3 linked regions of the Homo sapiens genome follow. The protein of the gene in region 1 interacts with the protein of each later gene in a pairwise test. Each region holds a gene or a part of one and is shown on either strand. Other genes may lie near its edges.

Evidence for each region.
Region 2: the proteins of KRTAP10-8 (region 1) and TRIM41 interact in binary tests that used the Homo sapiens proteins (3 or more experiments, as listed by UniProt).
Region 3: the proteins of KRTAP10-8 (region 1) and APOL6 interact in binary tests that used the Homo sapiens proteins (3 or more experiments, as listed by UniProt).

Annotation. Positions count from the first base shown.
Region 1 is NC_000021.9:44,610,238-44,613,462, forward strand, and holds KRTAP10-8 (keratin-associated protein 10-8), read left to right. Parts: upstream 1-1,841; 5' UTR 1,842-1,863; coding exon 1,864-2,643; 3' UTR 2,644-2,717; downstream 2,718-3,225. UniProt on the Homo sapiens protein: In the hair cortex, hair keratin intermediate filaments are embedded in an interfilamentous matrix, consisting of hair keratin-associated proteins (KRTAP), which are essential for the formation of a rigid and resistant hair shaft through their extensive disulfide bond cross-linking with abundant cysteine residues of hair keratins.
Region 2 is NC_000005.10:181,233,255-181,236,432, forward strand, and holds the end of TRIM41 (E3 ubiquitin-protein ligase TRIM41), read left to right. Parts: intron 1-158; coding exon 159-181; intron 182-381; coding exon 382-509; intron 510-919; coding exon 920-1,521; 3' UTR 1,522-1,677; coding exon of another isoform or gene 1,678-1,836; 3' UTR 1,837-2,099; coding exon of another isoform or gene 2,100-2,150; 3' UTR 2,151-2,554; downstream 2,555-3,178.
Region 3 is NC_000022.11:35,646,575-35,650,324, forward strand, and holds the start of APOL6 (apolipoprotein L6), read left to right. Parts: upstream 1-1,871; 5' UTR 1,872-2,049; intron 2,050-3,750. UniProt on the Homo sapiens protein: May affect the movement of lipids in the cytoplasm or allow the binding of lipids to organelles.

The sequences.
Region 1 (3,225 bases):
ATGGGGAAAATATCTCCAGGCCATGTCAGAGACCTTCATGGCAGCCCCTCCCATCAGAGGCCTGGAGGCCTGGGAGGAAAAAGTGGTTTCGTGGGTCCAGGGTCCCCATGCTGTATGCAGCCTGGGTGAAAGGAGCCAATGTACAGCTCAGACTGTGGCTTCAGAGGGTGGAAGCCCCAAGCCTTGGCAGCTTCCATGTTGCGTTGAGCCTGCAGGTGCACAGAAGTCAAGAATTGAAGTTTGGGAACCTCCGCCTAGATTTCAGAAGATATATGGAAACGCATGGATGCCCAGGCAGAAGTTTGCTGCAGGGGTGGGGCCCTCATGGAGAACCTCTGCTACGGCAGTGCAGAAGGGAAATGTAGGGCCAGGGCCCCCACACAGAGTCCCTACTGGGGCACTGCCTAGTGGAGCTGTGATAAGAGGGCCACCATCCTCCAGACCCCAGAATGGTAGATCTATTGACACCTTGCACCATGTGCCTGGAAAAGCTGCTGACACTCAACACCAGCCCATGAAAGCAGCCAGGAGGGAGGCTGTACCCTGCAAAGCCACAGGGGTGGAGCTGTCCGAGACCATGGGAACCCACCTCTTGCATCATTATGACCTGGATGTGAGACCTGGAGTCAAACGAGATCATTTTGGAGCTTTAAAATTTGACTCCCCTGCTGGATTTTGGACTTGCATGGGCCCTGTAAAATCCCTTTGTTTTGGCCAATTTCTGCCATTTGGAATGGCTGTATTTACCCAATACCTGTACCCCTATTTTATCTAGGAAGAAACTAGCTTGTTTTTGATTTTACAGGCTCATAGGTGGAAGAGACTTGTCTTGTCTCAGATGAAACTTTGGACTGTGGACTTTTGGGTTAATGCTGAAATGAGTTAAGACTTTGGGGGACTGTTGGGAAGGCATGACTGGTTTTGAAATGTGAAGACATAAGATTTGGAAGGGCCAGGGACAGAATGATATGGTTTGGCTGTGTCCTTACCCAAATCTCGACTTGAATTTCATCTCCCAGCATTCCTACATGTTGTGGGAGGAACCCAGGGGGAGATAATTGAATCATGGGGGCCGGTCTTTTCCTGTGCTATTCTAGTGGTAGTGAATAAGTCTCACAAGATCTGATGGGTTTATCAGGGGCTTCTGCTTTTGCTTCTTCCTCATTTTCTCTTGCTGTCACCATGTAAGAAGTGCCTGTCAGCTCCCACCAAGATTCTGCGGCCTCCCCAGCCATGTGGAACTGTAAGTCCAATTAAAGCCCTTTTTCCTCTCAGTCTTGGGTATGTCTCTATCAGCAGTGTGAAAATGGACTAATACAGGGGCATCGCACCATAGTTTGCAGATGGAACAGGTAGGGGTGGCAGGGTGGGGAGCCAGGGGGCATTCCTAGCCGAGACACCCATTGTTCAATGGAGCAGAACTCTGGGACAGGTGGAGAACATCTGCTGGTAAAAAAACACCCCACCCCTGGTACCAAATACCCCAATAGCAAAGACATACAGGCAAAGACAGGAGGAAAGTGGGGCTGGGTTTTCCAGACTTGCCAACTCACGATCTGTTCAACTCCCAGCTCCACCAGCAGACACGCAGCATCACTGTGTGTGGTTGCAGGGCACAGACACCTGCAAGTGGTCAGCATCACCCAACCACATGCAGCAGTCCTGGGACCACAGTAACATCCCACAGCAAGTAAACTAATTAGGGTTGCCTGGAGGCAAAGTCTCAGCCACAACAAGGAAAGGGAAGGCTTGTGAGACTCCTGTGAGGAAAATACCCAGGGAGGGTATAAAACCTCAGCAGCCAGGGCACACAAACCCACACACCTCACACCAGCACTCACACCACCCAGTCCAGCACCCACCATGGCTGACGCCTGCTGCACCAGGACGTATGTGATTGCTGCATCCACCATGTCTGTCTGCTCCAGTGACGTGGGCCATGTCAGCCGAGTCTCCTCCCCCAGCACCTGCACTGGCTCCTCCTGGCAGGTGGACAATTGCCAGGAAAGCTGCTGCGAGCCCCGCTCCTGTGCCTCCAGCTGCTGTACCCCTAGCTGCTGTGCCCCAGCCCCCTGCCTGGCCCTGGTCTGTGCCCCAGTGAGCTGTGAGCCCAGCCCCTGCCAATCAGGCTGCACCGACTCCTGCACACCTTCATGCTGCCAGCAGTCTAGCTGCCAGCCGGCTTGCTGCACCTCCTCCCCCTGCCAACAGGCCTGCTGTGTGCCTGTGTGCTGCAAGTCCAACTGCTGCAAGCCCGTGTGCTGCGTGTCCATCTGCTCTGGAGCTTCCTCCCCATGCTGCCAGCAGTCTAGCTGCCAGTCAGCTTGCTGCACCTTCTCCCCATGCCAACAGGCCTGCTGTGTGCCCATCTGCTGCAAGCCCATCTGCTGTGTGCCTGTCTGCTCTGGGGCTTCCTCTCTGTGCTGCCAGAAGTCTAGCTGCCAGCCGGCTTGCTGCACCACCTCCTGCTGCAGACCCTCCTCCTCCGTGTCCCTCCTCTGCCGCCCTGTGTGCCGGCCTGCCTGCTGTGTGCCTGTCCCCTCCTGTTGTGTCCCTGCCTCCTCCTGCCAGCCCAGCTGCTGCCACCCGGCCTCCTGCCTGTCCTTCCTCTGCCGCCCCGCGTGCTCCCGCCTGGCCTGCTGAGGCCTCTGCTCAGGCCAGGAGTCCAGCTGCTGATGGGCACGTCCCCCAGGGCCAGCCGGCTCCGGTCCTGTCCTGGGTTAAGTGGCTGCCCCTACCTGGGATGGGGTCTCCATGTCTCCCCTGTGCTGAGGTGACCTCTCCCTCCTTACTCCCAGGAGCCTCCATCCTCACTGCTCCCCAGCTCTTGCCTTCCAGCAGGTGCCCACCTGCCTGCTGGGTCCCCTGTCCTCCCTCCCAGCTTCTCTGCTCTGGGTCACTTGGCCTCGACTTGAACCTCTCAGCACCTCCTCCTACTCCCCAATAAACTCTCCTTGGTCACCTGATTCTCTTTTCCTGTTGTTCTCCTGGGAGGACACACGGTTTTGAGCTGACATTGGTCTCCTCCAGCCATGACCGTTTCTAGGAGTGAGTTACTTAACCTAGAAGTCACAAGGGACAGTGGCCTAACTCCTCCAGGGGGTCACCAGGTGGGACTCACGGTCACTCCCAGGAAGGCTCAGTCCCGGCTCAGCCCCTGTGACCGGGTCTTCCTGAGCCTGGTCATTCGCTGTAGTGCCCTGGGCTGTGGGGCTCTCCAGGCCC
Region 2 (3,178 bases), on another chromosome or scaffold:
AAATGGATGTGTGTTCATTGAGGGCCGTGAGGGTGCTGCTTCTCCCTTCCTGCTCAGGTTCAGTCTCTGACTGGAGATCGGGGAACGCTGTCCCTGTGCAGCTGACACTCTCTTTATCTCTTTCTCCCTCTCCCTCTTTTTGTTTCTCTTATTCCCAGGACATCAAGGAGACTTTCAATAGGTGTGTTCCCAGTCTTTGCCCTTCGTGACCCAGTGGCATCTGGTTCCCTGTCCCTGCTTCTCTTCGGTATCCCTCTCCTCTCCTTCCTTCCCCAGGACCTGAGTTTCCATCTCCTGGACCCTCCTCTCCTTCCCCTCAGCTTTTGCTTTTCCCTCTGGGAATATCGTGGTCCCACCCCCTGCCCGGTCCCCTTCCTCCAGGTGTGAAGAGGTACAGCTGCAGCCCCCAGAGGTCTGGTCCCCTGACCCGTGCCAACCCCATAGCCATGACTTCCTGACAGATGCCATCGTGAGGAAAATGAGCCGGATGTTCTGTCAGGCTGCGAGAGGTAGGGAGGTCACCTCCACGACCTTCCTTTGCCTTTCCCTTCACAGACCTGAGACTGGGTCCTGAGGGAAGTTGGGCCCCAGGGAAACTGTGGGGCTTGAGATGGAGCAGGATCCAGGCAGCCACTCTGAGGTTGAGGTTTCAAGCCATGAGCAGGTAGACCTAGTGCAGGCAGGCCTGGAGGGTGGGGTGGGGTGGAGTGGCAGGAAGAGCCAGGCTGGGGGAAGACCTGTCAGGTATCCTAGGAACAAGAGTGAGGAGCAAGATGAGCCTGCAGGAATCTGAGGCTGGCCTCTGGGATGGTGTGGGGAGCTGGATTCAGGGAGAAAGGGGGCCCAATCTGTGGAGTTGGCTGCTGACAGGGGAACAGCCGTTCCAGCCCTGGCGTATTTGTCCTCCCTCCCTCCCAAGTGGACCTGACGCTGGACCCTGACACGGCTCACCCGGCCCTGATGCTGTCCCCTGACCGCCGGGGGGTCCGCCTGGCAGAGCGGCGGCAGGAGGTTGCTGACCATCCCAAGCGCTTCTCGGCCGACTGCTGCGTACTGGGGGCCCAGGGCTTCCGCTCCGGCCGGCACTACTGGGAGGTAGAGGTGGGCGGGCGGCGGGGCTGGGCGGTGGGTGCTGCCCGTGAATCAACCCATCATAAGGAAAAGGTGGGCCCTGGGGGTTCCTCCGTGGGCAGCGGGGATGCCAGCTCCTCGCGCCATCACCATCGCCGCCGCCGGCTCCACCTGCCCCAGCAGCCCCTGCTCCAGCGGGAAGTGTGGTGCGTGGGCACCAACGGCAAACGCTATCAGGCCCAGAGCTCCACAGAACAGACGCTGCTGAGCCCCAGTGAGAAACCAAGGCGCTTTGGTGTGTACCTGGACTATGAAGCTGGGCGCCTGGGCTTCTACAACGCAGAGACTCTAGCCCACGTGCACACCTTCTCGGCTGCCTTCCTGGGCGAGCGTGTCTTTCCTTTCTTCCGGGTGCTCTCCAAGGGCACCCGCATCAAGCTCTGCCCTTGATTATCCTGCCACCCGCAGGGGCCCCTCTGTCAGCACTTGGGGGGTGGGTGGTGGAGGGTGGCCCGTAAGTTTGAGGGCTCAAAGGCTCTTCCCACTGCTTGTTACTGTGTTGCTTCCCACTCCCCCTTGACCCCAGGCCCCTGCTTCTCCCTCTAGGAGCCTAAAGAACCCTCCTGGCCTCCAGCTCAGCCTTCTCTCACCTACTATGTCTGTCCAACAGGTCTGCATGGGTCCCTGATAATGAGAACAGCTGCCTGGTCTTCTCTCCCAGTCTGCCTAGCCCAGCCCTGGGACTGGAATTTGAGTAGGGGATGAGGGGAAATTGTAATTTCATTCCTTAACTTCCTTTTCCCCACCCCTGCTCTTCAACCTCTTTATCAGTTCTGAGGCTGGAGGGTTTGGGCAAGGCAACATCCCCATTCCAATTCCATTTTCTGATGCAGATTTTAGCTGAGGGATTTGGAAGCCATTTGGGGAGGCAGGCTGGGCCAAAGGGTAGAGCTGGGTAATAAATGTCTATTCTCCTGGGGAGGAGGGATTCTAAACTTTCCTTCCGTCCTCAATTTCTACCTCCATAGACCGGCCAGAATTTAGCTTCACTTGAGAGAGATCTGGAATGGTCGCCATGATTGAAACCACGCACCATTACATCATCATTACATTAATTACATCAACATAAATTATTTCTTCCCCCTTCCCTTTTCCAGCACTCAACCAAGGAGCAAAGCTCATCCCACCCCACACCCCTCCCAGGTCTGCTCACTGCCAGGCTCCTCTCCCCTTTGTTCAGTGGAGCTGGCTTTTCTCCCAGCCCCTTTCCATGCCTTTCACTCCATTTGGCAAGCTCTGAGGGGGAGCCTGGGGACGGGTTTGGGTCCCCAGGAGGAGAGCCTTGGGTATAATCTATTTTTCTAGGAGCCTCTTGCCTTGTCACTTGCAGCTTTCGCCCTCTGCTTTGATGGCTGAGGTGAACTCATGTTCTTTGGGAAAAGGGAAGGCGTGCTGTGGAAATAAAATGTTTATTTGCTTCTCTTGTGAGGTCTGTTCCTTCAGGTGAGGGTGTAACTCAGGATTTCTTCCTTTGCCGCCCCTGCAGTGAGAAGCCACACAACTGAACTGGTTAGTTGCAGTTAAAGGCATGCTTTGCACCTGTTACCAGGCAGGCTCCTATTTCAACAGGGATGTGGACCCTGCTCCCCATTTTAATATCTTAACCTAACTTACTAACTGTTCAGTCTACTTAGAGATGTTTGCCACACGTAGTTGAAACTGAAGCCAGAAATGCCTCATCACCATTATAAATTGAGGGGAGTAGGAAGTGGAGGGTGCATGTGGGCCTTCAATATGCTGTAGTTGCTTAGCACAGAAAATTGCAAGGGTAGTGGGGTCTCAGCCGCATGTTGAACCATTCCATCCCTGTACTGAGGTTTCTATTGGAAACTGTAATTGTAGTTTAATGGCTCACTTCTGGCCTTTCACAAGGCATCTATCCTCATGAATAAACTGTGTTTGTGTGTAGGGGGATTGAGGGCCAGGTTATAGTAGCAGTTGAAATGTTTAGTAGGGCCAACTTTATGGTTCTATTTATGAATGCTTCCAGACCAACCACCCCAAAACTTTTGACCTGAGGAATAAATTAGTTTTGAATTAAGTTCTT
Region 3 (3,750 bases), on another chromosome or scaffold:
AAGAGACTAAGGGGCCTTCAGGCAAGTTTGTTTCTTTTCAGCAGGTCTTGGGTCCCTTGAGGGAAGGGAAGTGGACTCTAGGAAATTAAGCGACTCCCTACTTTTGTTCATCTGAGCTATAGGGTGGATGTTTTCTGTCCCCTTACATAAGCAGCACTTCCTGCATTTGGCTACAGAACATTTTTCTCACATGGCATCTCTTGGGGCGATTGTTTCACAAGAGCCCTGGTGGTAAACACTGCCCCCATCCAATGGCCGGTCTGGCCCCTGAGACTCCCAGGACCGAGCAGTGACCACAACATCTGGGTCCGTTGCCAGGGAAAACAACAGGCAGGCCTGGGATGGCTCAGCGGCCCCAGCCAGGCAGCCAAGTCCTCCTCAAGGTCAGGCTGTGTTTAGCGTGTTCCCCAAGTGTGGGAGGCCAGGAGCAGGGGTGGGTTGTGGAATCCGGGATGCCACGGTTGGAAAGGCCCCTACAAGACCCAACTCAGCAGCCCTTAACCCCTCATTCCTGCTCGTAGGGCCCAGGGACAGGAGGTGGCCTCTATCACAGCAAAGCCAGGACTGGCTAGGTGGGCCGCACCTTCTGCAAAGCAACAGCCTCCAATGTGGTCTCAGCTAGGGGTGGTGACTGGGGACTTCTGGGCATATAAATACAAACAAACCACATGGCTTCTGATCACAATTTGACACAAATGCTAGAGAGACACAGATCTCAGCCCGTAACCTCACTGTGGGCTCATTCTTGTAGACACAGAGCCTAGGACTGGTTCTTAGCTGTGTAATCACAAACAACCCACAACTTCTAGAAGCCTGGGTTTCCTCTTCCTTAAAGTGGGAGACAGAGTATCACAATCCTATATCTCCAATCCTTGAGGCCAGATGCATGTCAGAGTTCCTGATTTGGGGGATTTTTAGAAAGGTAATGGGGTGCAGGTATCGTGTACTATGTAACCCACGCACCCGCAGCAGCCCTCCTCAGTCAAACATATTAATATTTCTGCAGTGACTGTAAATATTCAAATTAAGCAGGAGACATAAAAACCACAGGTGAATTCATGCCAGATCAGGTCAGGTTTTGCCACTAAATGAATAAATTATCATTTTTTTTTAAGTTTTCATTCTGAGGCCAGGTGCGGTGGCTCACGCCTGTAATCCCAGCACTTTGGGAGGCCTAGATGGATGGATCATTTGAGGTCAGCAGTTTGAGACCAGCCTGGCCAACATGGCAAAACCCCATCTCTACTAAAAATACAAAAATCAGCCGGGCGTGGTGGCAGGTGCCTGTAATCTCAGCTACTAGGGAGGCTGAGACAGGGGAATAGCTTGAACGTAGGAGGCGGAGGTTGCAGTGAGCCGAGATCGTGCCATTGCACTCCAGCCTGGGCAACAGAGCGAGACTTCATCTCAAAAAACAATAATAATAATAATAATAAAATAAAGTTTCCATTTTCAGAGGATTCTGCATTCAGAGTTATTAGCCCTTTAATGCTGTGCACCTCATAGGGTTGTTACCCACATCAGCGTCACGTAAGATGCTGTGGAGGAAAGCAGTTTCAGAACAATCAGTGATGACAGCTACTGTGAATCCACTATTCAACAGGCGCCCCATCGCTTGCTCATGGGCTCCTCACCATAGCTCTAAGCCACAGGAGCTATTTTCATACCCCATATAGGTCCATCCTATAACACAGCCAGGACAGAGACGAGAGACTCAGGCCTCCTGACTTGGATTCTGCTCTTTCACCTCCTTGTTCATCCAATTAGAGAAACTGGCAAAAAGGAAACTGAAAGTGACAGCTGGAGCCCATGATTTCCTGGAAGAGCCCTAGAGCTTTGCTTTTTCTCTCCTGCAGCACTTAACCGAAACCAGTTTTGCAATCAATTCCTGTTCAAAGGCCACCCTACTCTTCCTATCCGTCTTTCTCCAGCCCAGACACTCACAGCCCCCTGCCAGACCAGGGGACCTCGGAGAGGCAAGGACAGAGGTTCAGGATCTTCCTCTCCCTCGGGACCCAAGGCCACAAAGGAGAGCTCCGTGGAGAGAAGGTGAGACGGCGGGCAGAAGTCGGGGGAGGAGGGGGCTGCCGCTCTGGTCCCTGAAGGACAGAGCCCCCAAGGGGTTGGCTTTAGGCACCTGACTCAGGGAAAAGAGCTGCTGTGAAAGCAGCGGGGTTCAAATGCCAGCCAGAGCTTGAGGAGAGTCTGAGGATTAACTTCTCCTGTGTTAATCCTGGTAGGTTTCCCTCCCTTACAGCCATTTCAGGGTTAAATTGAAACATGCTAAAGCATGCGATGTGACTAGCCAAGTTGCATTTGTCCCTCCACTGCTGGGGATCCGAGGGCTTAGGCAGAGGGGACCTGGCCCTTAGAAAGCAGATGATTACATCAGCCACAGGCGTTTCCCTAGAAATTCAGTAGAGGAGTGGTTTAGGGGTGTCATCTCACAAGAAAAAAGGTGCTGGGTGAGTTGTCTAGAAACTGCAAAGCCAACCTACAGAGTTTTCTAGATTGTAGATTTATGTGAAGTTGTTTGGGGAAGAGGGTGAGGGAGTTTGTGATAAATATTAGGGCGACTAGGCCAGGCGCAGTGGCTCATGCCTGTAATCCCAGCATTTTGGGAGGCTAAGGCAAGCGGATTGCTTGAGCCCAAGAGTTTGAGACCAGCATGGGCAACATAGTGAGACCCCGTCTCTACAAAAAATCAAAAAATAGCTGGGCGTGATGGTGCACACCTGTAGTCCCAGCTACTTGGGAGGGTGCTGAGGTGGAAGGATCACTTGAACCCAGGAAGTCAAGAATGCAGTGAGCAGTGATCGCACCACTGCACTCCAGCCTGGGCAACAGAGTGAGACCCGGTCTCAAAAAAAAAAAAAAAAATCTAGGGAGGTTATCTTGAAGCTGTGTTTTCAAAGTAAGCAGATTTTTCTTACTTAGATTGTGTATCTGCAGAAGTTGGTTTTGTGGGGGAAGGCAGGTAAGGAAAGACTGTCATAAATATCCTGTAAGCTTTCAAATGAAAGTAAGTTCTCAAATCCTCTTCCAATAAACCTCTCACAAGCAAATCCTCTCGCAACCACCAAGAGCAGGTCAGAGGGGATGGAATGGGACCTGCTTAGATGAGTTTCCTGCTGTTACCTTTGCCCTGCATCCCATAGGACTAATGTAAAAAAATGAGAGAGGTATTGGCGGACGCTGGTAAAAAATGGGGTTCCAGACCAGAGTCTCTTACCCCCAGCAACCTTGTCATGTTCAACCAGGTGATCCCTGGTTGTGGGGGCTGTCCTCTGCATCGTAGGGTGCTTGGCAGCATCCCTGGCCTCTGCCCTCTACATACCAACAGCAGTACCCTCTCCAGCTGAGACCATCAAAAATGTTTCCAGATATTAGCAGTGTCCCTGAGGAGCAAACACGCCCTGTTTGGGACCAACTACTCCAGACTCTGCGTGGCTGGAATTGCACAGGCTTTCCTGCTTACTGTGTGACACTGGCCTCCCTATGTCTCAGTTTGCACCTCTGTAAAATGGGCATCATCTTAGCACCGATCTCACTGGGTCACTGTGTAAAGCAGGTAGATGTATGTCTGGTGAAAGTAAACTCTTAAAGGTGCCAAGCCCCCTAAACCAAACCTAGCTTCACATACCAAAGAGGGGAGAAGGTTTTTATCTTTGAAGCATTCATTCTTTTTCATAGACTACCCCAAAGAAATAACCAAACATGTAGACAGACGTCTATATAAGGATTTTAACC